Regions from separate parts of the Homo sapiens genome. Here region 1 is linked to region 2. The links come from fine-mapping of genetic effects on gene expression. Tissue or cell type: whole blood. Region 2 holds a variant in brackets; the other region holds the start of a gene. All regions are shown on one strand. Distances are from middle to middle.

Region 1 (8,186 bases), 42 kb after region 2:
CAAGCAAAGATTACGCATTTTTATTGACATGATACCTTTCAGTCACTTAAGATATCAATTTCTCTCTCGAATTACAGATTTCGTTAAGAGTAATCTACTTCTTCCGTGTCCTTTTTAAAACCTTACAATTTTTTCAGCACCCAGTAGGTCCCTTACAAATGCAGAAGACAATCTCAGTCTTCTTCTTAGACTAGGGTTTCTCAACTAACATTTTGAGCTGGACAATTCGCTGCAGGAAGTTGTCCTCTGCATTGTAGAATGTTTAGCAGTACTCCAGGGTCTATCTGCTACATGCCAATAGCACACCTCTTCCCTCAGTGTGGCAACCAAAAAGTCTCAGACACTGTCAAATATACCCTGGGTACAAAGTCACCTCCCACTGAAAATCACTGCTTTAGGCTAGTTAGACATTCCAGTTAAGATGTATCAAAGTAGTTTATCAATTGATTCCAAAGAATAGTAAGATCAGGTATGTGAGGTGGGCGGCAAGCCACCCAGGCGCCAAGGCAAGAGACCAAGGACACGAGCTGTTCCAGTATAATAAAATATAAAACAAGAATAGTTATACCATATAGATCTTAGAGATATATGAATATCATTAATCATTAGTTTGCAGTAATTACTCTTTATCCCAATATTATAATAATCCTCGCTGTACAATCATAACCTAGGAAAAACCAGGCCATACAGAGATAGGAGCTGAGGGGACATAGTGAGGTGTGACCAGAAGACAAGAGTGCGAGCCTTCTGTTATGCCCGGACAGGGCCAGCAGAAGGGCTCCTTGGTCTAGCGGTAACGCCAGCATCTAGGAAGACGCCCGTTGCCGAGCGGAAGGTGGTCTAGCGGTAGCGAAAAGTGTCAAGGAAAAACACCCGCGACTTAGCAGACCAGGGAAGGGAGGCTCCCTTTCCCCGGGGGAGTTTAGATAAGACTCTGCTCCTCCACCTCTTGTGGAGGGCCTGACATCAGTCAGGCTTGCCCGCAGTTATCCGGAGGCCTAACCGTCTCCCTGTGATGCTGTGCTTCAGTGGTCACGCTCCTAGTCCGCCTTCATGTTCCATCCTGTACACCTGGCTCTGCCTTCTAGATAGCAGTAGTCAATTAGTGAAAGTAGTAAAAGTCTCTGATATGCAGAAATAACGGCATAAGCTATCTTTCTCTCTGTCTCCTCTCTCTCTCTGCCTCGGCTGCCAGGCAGGGAAGGGCCCCCTGTCCTGTGGACACGTGACCCACGTGACCTTACCTATCATTGGAGATGACCCACACTCTTTACCCTGCCCCTTTTGCTTTGTATCCAATAAATAACAGCGCAGCCAGACATTCGGGGCCACTACCGGTCTCCGCGCATTGGTGGTAGCGGTCCCCCGGGCCCAGCTGTCTTTTCTTTTATCTCTTTGTCTTGTGTCTTTATTTCTACACTCTCTCGTCGCCGCACACAGGGAGAGACCCACCGACCCTGTGGGGCTGGTCCCTACAGTGAAATATTTACAAGATGAATTCTTCCCTTTCTCAAGACTTGAAAATTCAACAACAACAACAAAAAAAAAACTCTGTGAACTGTAAACCTTATCTGCTAAAGCAAATAGTTGTCAAAGAAGATTATATAGAATTTTCAATTTTTTGTAAAACTTGTCAACATCATGGTTATCATAAAATGTCACCTATTTTATTAAATTAATATTCCCATTTGTTTACCCAAAAAAGTTTAAGACAAATTTCTTTAGCAATATTTTGAAAGAACAGGAAAAATCAACTCAGATATCTTGCCTTCCAATTTTATTGAGAAATTAGGGTTATCAACAACAGACTGTGCAATAATGATAAAAGCTCGTGACTTCTAGCTTTATAGCAACCACAAAAATAAAAGGCAGCAAAGCTTTACAGAGGCAGAGTTGTGAGCTGATAAAGCTAGGAGAATCCCTGATTGGATGTTCACTAGACACAATATGTGAAAGAAATGGGTTTATTTGCTCAGGCCTATTATAAAGTTAATGTTGGCCACTGGCAGAATACCTTATTCTAAAAATTTAAAAATGAGATGAAAGAAAGTCTCCTTTTCTAGATTTCACCAAAAAAAGACAAAAGGGGAAATAACATAAAATTACGACATTTTTAATTTCAGTTGTGAAAAACTTCAAAATCTTCAAGCAGTATACTCCTCAATGTCATGGTAAAACCATTATCAGAAGAACAGAATATTGGCATCACCTTCGATGTTACCTAGTCCAACCTCCAATTTTAAAGATAAAAGAGAGTAACATTTGATGGCAATGGAACCTCTGACTATATCCATACGTTTTATCTTTTTAAAAAGAAAATGTCTAAAGTAAATATGGCATAATATTATAACATTGAAATATGAGTAATTACATGAAAGTATTATATCATCCAGTATGATTTAAACTTTTCAGAATTTAAAAATATTTTTTCTATAAAGTTTAAATTAAGATGAAGAAACTAAGGCCCAATAAGGTAAGTGGCTTGTCCAACACAGCACACCATTCACTAGGCCTATTCAGATTTCAGATTTGCTACTCCGGTGCGTTTTCAAGTTTCAAATGTTTACAAACTATAAGGAATCACTGGAAAGAATATTGCCAGTATTCTGAAGAAATACTTGATTTCTGCAGAAGATGCTGGTCATTTAATTCCTTAAATGTGTCTTTCTTTACTTACCTTTCCTTTACATTGTATTGAGTGTGGTGGGGGGATGTAAACAAAGAATGTACAGTAGGCCCTCCATATTCACGGACTGAACTAACTGCAGACCAAAAATATTTCGGGGGGAAAAAATAAAAAGTATCAATTCAGCAATAAAAAAATGCAAATTAAAAAACAACAGAACAACTATTTACATAGCACTTACTTATTGGGTATTATAAGCAATCCAGAGATGACCAAAAGTATACAGAAGGATATGCATAGGGTACATACAAATACTAGGCCATTTTATTTAAGGGACTTGAGCAACCTCCAATTTTGGTATGGTCAGGGGTACTGAAGCCAATCCCCCATAGATACCAAGGGACTATTGTATTGTTGGGCAAACCACAGTGAACCAATCAAATGATCAGCCACCTATTAAAAACAGGCTCTTGCCAGGCACTATAGCTCACACCTGTAATCCTAGCACTTTGGGAGGCTGAGGCAGGAGGATCACTTCAGCCCAGGAGTTGGAGGCTGCAATGAGCTACGATCTTGCCACTGCACTCCAGCCTTGGCAACAGAGCAAGTCCTTGTCTCAAAAAGACAAGCCAAAAAAAAAAAACAACAACAACAACAACCAGGCTCTTCCGTAATTCAGGGTATAAACAGCATTGCCCAATATATGTTCCATATACGTAATTATAAATTTTAGAAGCCAAGTTTAAAAAGAAAAAAAGTAAAACTAAAAAACACGGGAAATACACTTTAATATTATATTTAATTTAACCCAATATATTCAAATATTATTTCAACACATAAGCAACATAAAAATTATTGAGGTATTATTTTTTTCTCCTACTTCATTAGGAGTAATGCTTATTCAAAACGATGTTTTAATTCATACAGCAAGTCTCAATTAGCACTAACCTCATATCAAGTGCTCCACAGCTACAGTGGCTAGTGGTTACCCTAGTGGACAGGGGAAGTCTATAGCTATTTGTTGTTGCTTGAATTAAAAGCAGATCCATACATTTGAGTCGTTTTTTGAATTTTCCTCCAAAGCTGACAAAGTTCCCAAACCTTTTGTGGAGTGAGAAAGTCCCAAAGTCCTCAAAGCTTAACACGTAATTCATGCAAACGATTAAGCTCGTTGAAGAGTGTATGTTTAAGTACACTATTTCCTGAATACTTTTATACACTTAATCTCCAGGATAAAAACGTTGGCATAAATTCCTGAGCATGCAACCAAGCAGACACCTAATTAATGACGATGCTGGTCGAGGCTTGAATTTCTCTCTATTGCTCCAAAACAAAATTCAAAATCCTCTTCGTATTGACGGAAAAGTAAATATTAAAGGAAGAAATCATTTTCACAGGAGCTGAAAGCATTAAGAGTAAGAATCCCTAAGCACACGCCTATCTTAAAGATCTCCTGCCCGTTCCTCTCCAAACCCGGTAATCCTAAAGAGAAGGAACCCAGTTCTTGCTCCCTGTAAAATGATAGTGAAGATAACTGCGAGATGCAACTTCCTCCTTTTTTCTTAGTGCCACTTCGAGCGTATATGACCAGACAACCATGCTCACTCCACGCGATACCGAAACAGAAAGGGCTCTGTTTTTATGCTGTAGGGCCAAAGGGGCCACCCTGAGTGCAGCGAGAGGACCACAGAAACGGGCAGGGCGGGGACAGCAGGGCCAGGGCTTGGCCTCGGGGGACGAGAAAGGTGGGAACTTTGGCAGCGCGGGCGGGATCCCGCCGCATCTCCCCAGCCGGAGTCGGGACTGGGACCCCGAGAATCCGCGGGCGGCAGAGGCTCCCGCATCTAGCACCTGCCGCACCGGGATGGGGAGTCTCAGGCGGCGCAGGGAGCAGGGCCCGGGCAGAATCCCGGACGGAGCAGCCCTCGGCTGGGCCCTCAGCGCCCGCAGCCCACTGGCCGCGCCCTCTCGCTTACCGCCCCAGATGCCCAGCTTCAGCTGGGACTTGTTCAGGTTCTCCACATAGTCCCCCAGGAAGCGGTTCAGCAAGTCCGCGACCACCGACTCCAGCACCATGGTGGCGCTGAGGCACAAGGAGAGGGAGGAGCCGGAACCGCCCGGCGCAGCTGAGGGCTGCGACCAGCGCTGCAAATGACAGCCCCTCCGGCGCAGGCCCACCCCCGCGCCGCGCGCGTGACCCCGCCGGTGCGCAGGCGCGCTGTCGCCCGGCCGGTAGCTAAGGAGGCCCAGCTGTGATCCCGAGGCTTTGTAGGCGCCGCAGCCCTGGCCCTCTAGAGGCCGACGGAGGAGTGCGGGGGAAGTTAGCTTGCGCCTGTCTCGTCAGCCGTGCACGAGAAAAAAAAGGACCTTCGAGAAGAACAAGGGAGGGCAAGAGTTACCGAGTACAGGGACATCTATGTGGCCGCTCTGCTTTCCCGCCGTCACCTGCTGTTGAACTCCGGCCGCATCGCGGTGTCCGGAGCCGCCTGGCCTGGAGTATGCGCTGAGCGTCACCTAGGCAACCACCCCTGCACCTGTGGATCAGGTGGGGGAAAGGGACCGACCGCGTTCTTGTCCTGCTAGAGTTCGACTCCGCCTGGGGCTTGGTCTCTGCTTCTTGAAAACATTGTTTTTTTATTTTGTTTCTGTTTTGTTTTGTTTTGAGACAGGGTCTCGCTCTGTTGCCAAGGGTAGAATGCAGTGTCGGGATCATAGCTCACTACAGACTTGACATCCTGGACTCAAGAGATCCTCCTGTGTCAGCCTCCCGAGTAGCTGGGACCACTGGCGCGCGACAAATAATTTGAAAGTGGGAGGAGGGGAACAGAACCACATCAAATGGCAGATATCATAGAATGAGAACTGAATATACGCGTTTTGTGGGAAACGCGTTCTTTTCCCCTTTCTCTAAGATTCGCTTTTAATTCACTAGCCACTAACCAGTTACCTATCTCATTACAGATATAAAAAACAAAACGTAGTAGTGCCTTTTTAAGTATGAGTTACTTGTTATTTATATATCACTTTCTTCCATGCTATCGTTGAACTGTCTTTGATGTAGCACGACCTTAAAAGCAGAGCTTTTATACCACAAGATCTTTCAACCCTTGTGAAATTTAACCACCCATTGAGATTCACCTCTTTAGAGAACTAGAAATTTTTTCCTAAAATATATTTCAAAAAGTTGTTGAGATACAGTACACAGGAAGAAACCTAAGAAATGCTGATTATTTGTAGTCACAAGCATTAATAAGTGCTTTGCTACGAGGAAGTGTCTGAGAAACTATTCGTGTATTTTTCTTAAACAACCTAGGCTTGCACAGGATCACAAAGAAAAATCTTAAATTCAAAGTCCGCTGGAGAAGAAAGAAAATCAAAATGGCTACAATTGGTGTTGTGTATTAAATAAAATTAAAAGTACAAAGAAAGACCCAGTCAGTACTAACTAGTACTATCAAGATCACATTCCTCTCCCACTTTTGCACACTCCATTCCTCTTTAAGAAGATAAATCCTTAACCGTCTGTTTTTCCTAGCTGGTCACAAAGACAAAATACTAGTAAGTACTTTGGATTTCTTCACCATCCACAACCAAATAACAGCCTAACCTGTCTATTTTGCTTTTGCCATCTTTCCTAAATTCTCCATGTTTTTCTTCTGGACCATGCCATCCATCTCCTTGAAATTCACTTCCTAGCCTCCAGTTATTCCTTCCTCCAGTCTATTCTCATGAACACCGGATGTGTTTTCCCAAAGCACAGGTGAGCTTAGGTTAGTCACCTGCTCAAAAACATCCAATAACTTCCCAGTGTTTAGAACACTCTCTTCAAACTTTCTCCACGTTCTTTCTAGTCATACACTCTAACAATCCCGCTTCCTTTTTACATTCACACTGACTATGCTCCAAGAGGAATGTAAAGAAGCAATATATGTTCTGGTTGAGATAAGGCATGTACCATAAAAAGTTAAGAAAGAAGCCAATCCAAGGATGTATGAATAACAGTATAAGATGATAGGAAAGATGGCACAGGCAACATAGCTTGGTCAAGCAGGTGGAGCAATAGGCACAATCTCTTGGGAGAAGTGAGTAACACTAATGCTTTGTCTAATAAAGTAATTCCTTACAGTTCTATGGTATAACTTGGTAATTTTGAAAGAATAATGTGTAAATGTGCTTTCATATGCATCATTCAATTTTATTATGTTTCAGTTATACTTTGTAAGGCCTCATGTCATTATTATGCGAAGGTAGGCATTTTTGTGTACTCCTCACAAAAGAGCTGTGAGGTAGCTAATGCAGGTAGTAGTATGGTCCTCATTTTACAGAAAAATTAAGCTCGGGAATGTTAAGTGACTTACCCAAAGTCACACAGCAGATATTAATTTCCTTTGATTCTCTGAGCACTGCCACCCTTTTCTCTTCTGGTAATTATACAATTTAATCAACACTGGGCTATTAGTCATTTTCAGAGATCTTACTTTGAAAGGTTCATGACAGAAAAAATAAATCTCAGAGTGGAAAATTTGGCTCTACATTTTTGGTACAAAAAAATGCTATTATCATGTAGTATAAAAAGCTTTAAATTTTACTATTTTCCATTTTCAGCATGTTTTAAGGGATTGATTATGTGCATTCAGTAATGCCCCAAATCTTCCATTATTTAACAAGTCAGAAATATACAGTCCCAATTTAAAACAAACTATAACCAATGTCAAGAAACACCATTAGCACCCTTATGTATGGCATTATATCAGAAATAATTTGGATAACAGAGGTTAAAGAAAATGAGCATTCTAATTAATTATAGTTCTTGCCTTCATTCTGGCTTAAGAACAATGAGAATGACAACAAAGGAAATTACAAAACTAAACTTCAATGAGGGACTAAACAATAAAAACAGATGAGCAAAGTATTTCTGTTAAAAACAAAAGTATAAGTTAGGGACACTTAAAAATTAACTCAAAAGTGTTTAAAAAAAAAAAAAAAACTTCACACTAACCACCACCCATACCCTATTCCCCAACCCTAGAGTTTTTGGAGAAAAGCAGAAGGAATTTGGGGGAAAGGAAATGGAGGAGAAAGCTGGAGTATAAGCCATGACACCATGGACTGCAGGAAAAGTTAGGGAGGTTAACTAGGAGAAAGCACGGGAGTGGATTTCAGAATGTTAGTGCCAGAGGGAGGATCATCCTGTTAATCCAGCCCCCTCAATTGACAGATGGAGACACTGAGTGCCAGGGAGAATTAAGGGTTTGCCCAAAGTCCCACAAGTTAGTGACTGTCAGAGCAAAAACCCAAACCCAAGTGTCCTGACTCCCTGCTCTGTATTCTTTCCAGTACCCCATACTCTAGTTGTGTTGAACAAGATGCATAAGTCAGAACACTGGTGTTTTATTGGTTGTAATCTCTCTTCTTGCTTTCCTTGACACTCAACCTCCTATATTTTTGTAAGTATGCTTTAAAATGTTTAATTTCCTTTTACTCTTAGAGCACCTCTGGTCTTGATGGTATGTGGTCTATTCATGCTCACTTTACAGAATTGTTTTCCAGCTCCAATACT
Region 2 (8,186 bases):
TTGGAGATTCACAGTGTTTGTTAACATATCTAAAGCTCTATAGTTTAAAATAAAATGAAACGTATCTGTTTAATTATGTATAGCTTAGTACTTTAATCAATAATCTTACTTGATCAGAGAATATTTTCTCTACAACATCTCAAAATATCTCAATATCTAATAAAGTACCATTTGGGAAGTATTAACTGTATCCTGTATCTTCACTTGATAGGTAAAGAACCTATATCTCAGAACTGGTAAGTGATTACAGAGGGTCACATAGTAAGTAGCAGGGCCAAAACTAGACCCTAGACTTTTAACTCACACTCCAATGGCATATTCTGCTCCATCAATGTTTCTTCAAGAAAATAAATTAAGTGCACCTAGGAAACTAACAAAAATTTTTATTCCAACATAATACCTTGTATATAATTTTGTCTGCTTCATTTAATATGCATGGAGTCCAGTGTTCATTTGCAGTCTAAAAGAAAAAAGGGAATACCTGTGAAACGTGGTATGGATGTCATTAATAGCGCTCTAATACTTACATAATGTAACAAAATAATTTAGGAAGAAATGACATCTACTTAATGTTAACTAGTATTAGCTATCTATTTCTTTACATATATTTATAAGACAAAATCAAAGAAACAATGAAAAGAGAATTGACATGATTCTAATTTGAGTTCATTCATTCAGAAAATAATTACTGGGTTAATATGTATTTGAACTGTGGAAAGAATCAGGTATGAATGAAAACAGAGAGCCAGCCTATACACTATTGAATATGGTATACATTCTTTTTAAAAAAACAAGTAATTGTTTTGTAATAGGAAGAAAACCAGGAGAGTATGGAAATTACAGCATGACCAAGTTTCTACAAGGACAGCATGTTCAGCAACACCAAACACTAAACTTATTTAGCAGCAAGGGCGTTATTGAGAAACTTGTTAAGAACTGTTTCAGTGGAGTAGTAGAGTGAGAGTACAGTGAGCACATAGGTAAAATGAGATCCAGATCAGAGGTGGGAGGATAACTTTAGATTTATAAGTTAGATTGTAATTGCAAAGAAAAATAAATGGTATGGATACAAAAGAGGTAGGTTTACTATTGCTGTAGTTGTTATAATAGCCACTATAATAGCAGGAAATAATTGAGCCAGACAATGTGCCAAAAGCTTTACATAAACTATCTCATTTAATCATCACAAAAACACTAAAAGGTAGGTACTACTTCAGTGAATGAATGTGGTTTTGACAGAAGGAGATTAACATGATAACCAGTACAATAATATTTTACAGGTCTTTGACAAAATACAATAGGAAGCATAAAAGAGGGAATGGTAAATTCTAAGAAGGAAGTGAAAAAGAATGAGAAAGAAAGGTCATATATTACTTAAGTATTAAAACTTGAGTAGAATCACCAGGCAGAAAGTAATACAGACAACTAAAGCAGAATGAAGAGTCTGAGCAAAGATACAAAGGGACAAACAGCAGCAAACACTAAGGAAACTACCCATTCTTATGCAATAGTATACCTGTTATCAGACAATAGGAGGTATATGACTATTTTGTATTTTTTGCATTGTCTGCTAGAAGCTCAAAGTTACTCTGCTCCCTTATGACCACTATCATTAGTCACAGTTTTCTGGAACAATTCTCTCTCTATCCTTTAGAACACAGATTCTATCCTCTTTAAAGGTGTTACTGTATACTTGTTTTTGTCGAAAGCTACCTCAAATTCATTTTGGAAACAGGCAAAGGATAAACTAGTTTCCTCCCATGTTGTAGGTTGCCTGTTCACTCTGATGGTAGTTTCTTTTGCTGTGCAGAAGCTCTTGAGTTTAATTAGATCCCATTTGTCAATTTTGGCTTTTGTTGCCATTGCTTTTGGTGTTTTGGACATGAAGTCCTTGCCCACGCCTATGTCCTGAATGGTAATGCCTAGGTTTTCTTCTAGGGTTTTTATGGTTTATTGCGGCACTATTCACAATAGCAAAGACTTGGAACCAACCCAAATGTCCAACAATGATAGACTGGATTAAGAAAATGTGGCACATATACACCATGGAATACTATGCAGCCATAAAAAATGATGAGTTCATGTCCTTTGTAGGGACATGGATGAAATTGGAAACCATCATTCTCAGTAAACTATCGCAAGAACAAAAAACCAAACACCGCATATTCTCACTCATAGGTGGGAATTGAACAATGAGATCACATGGACACAGGAAGGGGAATATCACACTCTGGGGACTGTGGTGGGGTCGGGGGAGGGGGGAGGGGGGAGGGATAGCATTGGGAGATATACCTAATGCTAGATGACACGTTAGTGGGTGCAGCGCACCAGCATGGCACATGTATACATATGTAACTAACCTGCACAATGTGCACATGTACCCTAAAACTTAGAGTATAATAAAAATAAAAAATAAAAAAAGAAGTCCAAAAAAAAAAAAAAAAAAAAAAAACTAGTTTCCTTCACTGCCTTTCCTTTGTTTCTTCAGCTCTCTCTTTTTCTTTATTGTTTCTGCTCTGTTCTTCAATGCGATGTGTATCTCTACTTCTCTATATGCCCACAACATTGTGAAGCCTTCCACATAACCATGTCCTTCTTTTTCTGTTTCTCTGCCAGTCTACCACCCTACCATTCTTCTTCCTCTTCTTTCCTTATTGAGGCCCTCTCCATATAAGTAGTCATAAGGCAAACTTGTCTGGTATGATATATGGTTCACTGTCCTTAACTTTATTTTATATATATATATATTTTTATTATACTTTAAGTTCTAGGGTACATGTGCACAACGTGCAGATTAGTTACGTATGTATACATGTGCCATGCTGGTGTGCTGCACCCATTAACTCGTCATTTACATTAGGTATATCTCTTAATGCTATCCCTCCCCCCTCCCCCGACCCCACAACAGGCCCCAGTGTGTGATATTCCCCTTCCTGTGTCCAAGTGTTCTCATTGTTCAATTCCCACCTATGAGTGAGAACATGCAGTGTTTGGTTTTTTGTCCTTGCAATAGTTTGCTGAGAATGATGGTTTCCAGCTTCATCCATGTCCCTACAAAGGACATGAACTCATCATTTTTTATGGCTGCATAGTATTCCATGGTGTATATGTGCCACATTTTCTTAATCCAGTCTATCACTGTTGGACACTTGGGTTGGTTCCAAGTCTTTGCTATTGTGAGTAGTGCTGCAGTAAACACATGTGTACATGTGTCTTTAGAGCAGCATGATTTATATTCCTTTGGGTATATACCCAGTAATAGGATGGCTAGGTCAAATGGTATTTCTAGTTCTAGATCCCTGAGGAATCGCCACACTGTCTTCCACAATGGTTGAACTAGTTTACAGTCCCACCAACAGTGTAAAAGTGTTTCTATTTCTCCACATCCTCTCCAGCACCTGTTGTTTCCTGACTTTTCAATGATCGCCATTCTAACTGGTGTGAGATGATATCTCATTGCGGTTTTGATTTGCATTTCTCTGATGGCCAGTGATGATGAGCATTTTTTCATGTGTCTGTTGGCTGCATAAATGTCTTCTTTTGAGAAGCGTCTTCTTTTGAGAAGTGTCTGTTCATATCCTTCGCACACTTGTTGATGGGGTTGTTTTTTTCTTCTAAATTTGTTTGAGTTCTTTGTAGATTCTGGATATTAGCCCTTTGTCAGATGAGTAGGTTGCAAAAATTTTCTCCCATTCTGTAGGTTGCCTATTCACTCTGATGATAGTTTCTTTTGCTGTGCAGAAGCTCTTTAGTTAAATTAGATCCCATTTGTCAATTTTGGCTTTTGTTGCCATTGCTTTTGGTGTTTTAGACATGAAGTCCTTGCCCATGCCTATGTCCTGAATGGTATTGCCTAGGTTTTCTTCTAGGGTTTTTATGGTTTTAGGTCTAACATGTAAGTCTTTAGTCCATCTTGAATT[G/A]ATTTTTGTATAAGGTGTAAGGAAGGGATCCAGTTTCAGCTTTCTACATATGGCTAGCCAGTTTTCCCAGCACCATTTGTTAAATAGGGAATCCTTTCCCCATTGCTTGTTTTCGTCAGGTTTGTCAAAGATCAGATAGTTGTAGATGTGTGGTATTATTTCTGAGGGCTCTGTTCTGTTTCATTGGTCTGTATCTCTGTTTTGGTACCAGTACCATGCTGTTTTGGTTACTGTAGCCTTGGAGTATAGTTTGAAGTCAGGTAGCGTGATGCCTCCAGCTTTGTTCTTTTGGCTTAGGATTGACTTGGCAATGTGGGCTCTTTTTTGGTTCCATACGAACTTTAAAGTAGTTTTTTCCAATTCTGTGAAGAAAGTCATTGGTAGCTTGATGGGGATGGCACTGAATCTATAAATTATCTTGGGCAGTATGGCCATTTTCACGATATTGATTCTTCCTATCCATGAGCATGGAATGTTCTTCCATTTGTTTGTGTCCTCTTTTATTTCATTGAGCAGTGGTTTGTAGTTCTCCTTGAAGAGGTCCTTCACGTCCCTTGTAAGTTGGATTCCTAGGTATTTTATTCTCTTTGAATCAATTGTGAATGGGAGTTCACTCATGATTTGGCTCTCCGTTTGTCTGTTATTGGTGTATAAGAATGCTTGTGATTTTTGCACATTGATTTTGTATCCTGAGACTTTGCTGAAGTTGCTTATCAGCTTAAGGAGATTTGGGGCTGAGACGATGGGGTTTTCTAGATATACAATCATGTCATCTGCAAACACGGACAATTTGACTTCCTCTTTTCCTAATTGAATACCCTTTATTTCTTTCTCCTGCTTGACTGCCCTGGCCAGAACTTCCAACACTATGTGGAATAGGAGTGGTGAGAGAGGGCATCCCTGTCTTGTGCCAGTTTTCAAAGGGAATGCTTCCAGTTTTTGCCCATTCACTATGATATTGGCTGTGGGTTTTTCATAAATAGCTCTTATTATTTTGAGATACATCCCATCAATACCTAATCTATTGAGAGTTTTTAGCATGAAGGGCTGTTGAATTTTGTCAAAGGCCTTTTCTGCATCTATTGAGATAATCATGTGGTTTTTGTCTTTGGTTCTGTTTATATGCTGGATTACATTTATTGATTTGCGTATGTTGAACCAGCCTTGCATCCCAGGGATGAAGCCTTCTTGTCCATGGTGGATAAGCTTTTTGATGTGCTGCTGGATTCGGTTTGCCAGTATTTTATTGAGGATTTTTGCATCGATGTTCATCAAGGATATTGGTCTAAAATTCTCTTTTTTGGTTGTGTCTCTGCCAGGCTTTGGTATCAGGATGCTGCTGGACTCATAAAATGAGTTAGGGAGGATTCCCTCTTTTTCTATTGATTGGAATAGTTTCAGAAGGAATGGTACCAGCTCCTCCTTGTACCTCTGGTAGAATTCGGCTGTGAATCCGTCTGGTCCTGGACTTTTTTTGGTTGGTAAGCTATTAATTATTGCCTCAATTTCAGAGCCTGTTATTGATCTATTCAGAGATTCAACTTCTTCCTGGTTTAGTCTTGGGAGGGTGTATGTGTCGAGGAATTTGTCCATTTCTTCTAGATTTTCTAGTTTATTTGCGTAGAGGTGTTTATAGTATTCTCTGATGGTAGTTTTGTATTTCTGTGGGATCGGTGGTGATATCCCCTTTACTATTTTTTATTGCGTCTATCTGATTCTTCTCTCTTTTCTCCTTTACTAGTCTTACTAGCAGTCTATCGATTTTGTTGATCTTTTCAAAAAACCAGCTCCTGGATTCATTGATTTTTTGAAGGGTTTTTTGTGTCTCTATTTCCTTCAGTTCTGCTCTGATCTTAGTTATTTCTTGCCTTCTGCTAGCTTTTGAATGTGTTTGCTCTTGCTGCTCTAGTTCTTTTAATTGTGATGTTAGGGTGTCAATTTTAGATCCTTCCTGCTTTCTCTTGTGGGCATTTAGTGCTGCAAATTTCCCTCTACACACTGCTTTTAATGTGTCCCAGAGATTCTGGTATGTTGTGTCTTTGTTCTCGTTGGTTTCAAAGAACATCTTTATTTCTGCCTTCATTTCGTTATGCACCCAGTAGTCATTCAGGAGAAGGTTGTTCAGTTTCCATGTAGTTGAGTGGTTTTGAGTGAGTTTCTTAATCCTGAGTTCTAGTTTGATTGCACTGTGGTCTGAGAGACTGTTTGTTATAATTTCTGTTCTTTACATTTGCTGAGGAGTGCTTTACTTCCAACTATGTGGTCAATTTTGGAATAGGTGAGGTGTGGTGCTGAGAAGAATGTATATTCTGTTGATTTGGGGTGGACAGTTCTGTAGATGTCTATTGGGTCTGCTTGGTGCAGAGCTGAATTCAATTCCTGTACTGTCCTTAACTTTAAAAGTATCTAAGTGAACCACATCTTCCTCTCCATACATGCCCCAAAACATGTTTCCTACCACTTAGTTGCCTGTAATAGAAATAAAAATGTCCAGCCTATATATATATATACATATATATATATGTATGTGTGTATATATATACAGACACACACTGTCTACTGTTAAAGACCATTAAAAGAAAAACTCATTATAAAATAATCAAAATAAATTAATTTACATATTGCCCAATGAGATGAGTGTGCGCACACACACACACATACATAAACATATGCATATCTATAAGCTATTTAGAAATTCCATCTACCTATACCGAAGATGAGTACATGACTCTACAGAAATTCATCTTCCCCTACTTCCCCCACATGTTTAAGATACAGCTTTTATTTCTTTCAAATCATTTGATAATGATATTTTGATACCTGTTACACAGAAAGACAAAAATAATTTTAAAATGTAATAATAGCATCACTAAAAATGTTAAACTTCTAGAAAAGTTGTTTAGCATGATAATATATTTAAAAAATCATAGTTCTTTGTCGCATAGTTGATTCTAGACAATTTACCCTGTGACTTCAGAATAATACTTTACAGGTTCCATAGAAGTTTAAAATAAAGCAAACATTACCAGTAGACTAAGCTCTCCCAGTGTGACACCAAATGAAAGAGGCCGCTTTGGATCAGTGACCTACCAAAGAAGAAAAGATAACAGTAAAATATGCTGATGGTGAAGGCGAATCCATGTCCTTTACAATAGGCAGCAGAGGGAAATGTGTTTACAGGTTAAGCCATACAACCCAAATGGATTTGTGGAAAACACAGGGGAAGGAGGTAATAACATGGCTGGGATTATCCATATTTTGTAGACATAACATTTCTATGCTACCAATAAGATCCTTTCCCAGTGGAACTCTTTTCATACTAGAAGATGACTCACTAACTATGACTAACAAGACTTCTCTCTAGACAGTTAAAAAGGAATAATCTTTTTATGTGTATAATCAAAGATTTTTTCACAGATAAATTTTAAAAGGTGTTACAGATAACACTGCCACTAAATCATTTTAATAACACTTAGGGTACATAGTGGAATACTATTCAGCCATAAAAAAGGAAAACATGTTTGTTTGGGTTTTTTTGCAGCAACATGGATGGAACTGGAGGCCATTATCTTAAGTGAAACAACCCAGAAGCAGAAAAACAAACTGCACGTTCTCACTTATAAGTGGCAGCTAAATAATGAATACACGTGGTCAGTGTGTGGAATAATACACATTGGAGACTTGAAAGGGTAGGGTGGGTGAGAAGTAGGTGTAAATGATAGGAAATTTATTAATGGGTACAATGTATATTATGGGTGATGGAGACACTAAAAGTTCAGACTTCACCACTATGCAGTATATCATGTAACAACACTGCACTTGTACTCCTTAAATTTACACATTTTAAAAAAAAGGCTTTCATACTTGGAAATATGAACTATCTCTTTAAGCCTTTAATGTTCTTAACACTTCAAAATGCTTCTAGGAAAATCTCTAGATCCTTAATATTTAATTTCTTTAGTCTCTATATCCAAAATCTGTCAACATTAAGTTTTTGTTGTATTTCTGATCTTCAATATCTAAGTTGCAATCCACAGTGCTTAAACTATACCACAGTGTGCACAGTATCACCATTTTAGACATCTTAAAGAAAAGTCTTATAGAATTGTTTGGTCATGGCAGAAACTAAGGGAAATAAGGAGAAGGGAAATGGATAATGTTCTAAATCATCCAACTGGGACTCCAGAGTTTAGTCACATACAATTTTCTAAATGGAAAAAAATCCATGTGGTACAGTTGAGAAGTACGAATAGCTTTATAAGTCAT

What was found. PIP is the estimated chance that this variant, and not a neighbour inherited with it, causes the effect.
Region 1: VPS13C starts here. The variant in region 2 is fine-mapped to the expression of VPS13C in whole blood (TOPMed, PIP 0.93).

What each region holds. Positions count from the first base shown.
Region 1 is chr15:62,055,673-62,063,858 of GRCh38, forward strand. It overlaps VPS13C (vacuolar protein sorting 13 homolog C), which reads right to left and starts at 4,775. Exons shown (of 85, transcript NM_020821.3): 1 at 4,603-4,775. The coding sequence starts at 4,702. VPS13C-DT (VPS13C divergent transcript) reads left to right here and starts at 4,831. Exons shown (of 2, transcript NR_135690.1): 1 at 4,831-5,171; 2 at 5,296-6,762. RefSeq lists a silencer at 4,637-4,986 and an enhancer at 5,037-5,086.
Region 2 is chr15:62,013,533-62,021,718 of GRCh38, forward strand. VPS13C (vacuolar protein sorting 13 homolog C) reads right to left here. Exons shown (of 85, transcript NM_020821.3): 9 at 6,947-7,006; 10 at 401-460. Among named protein-coding and RNA genes, the nearest start is that of VPS13C, 43 kb to the right of the region's middle. The variant G/A (reference allele first, on the strand shown) is at 3,921.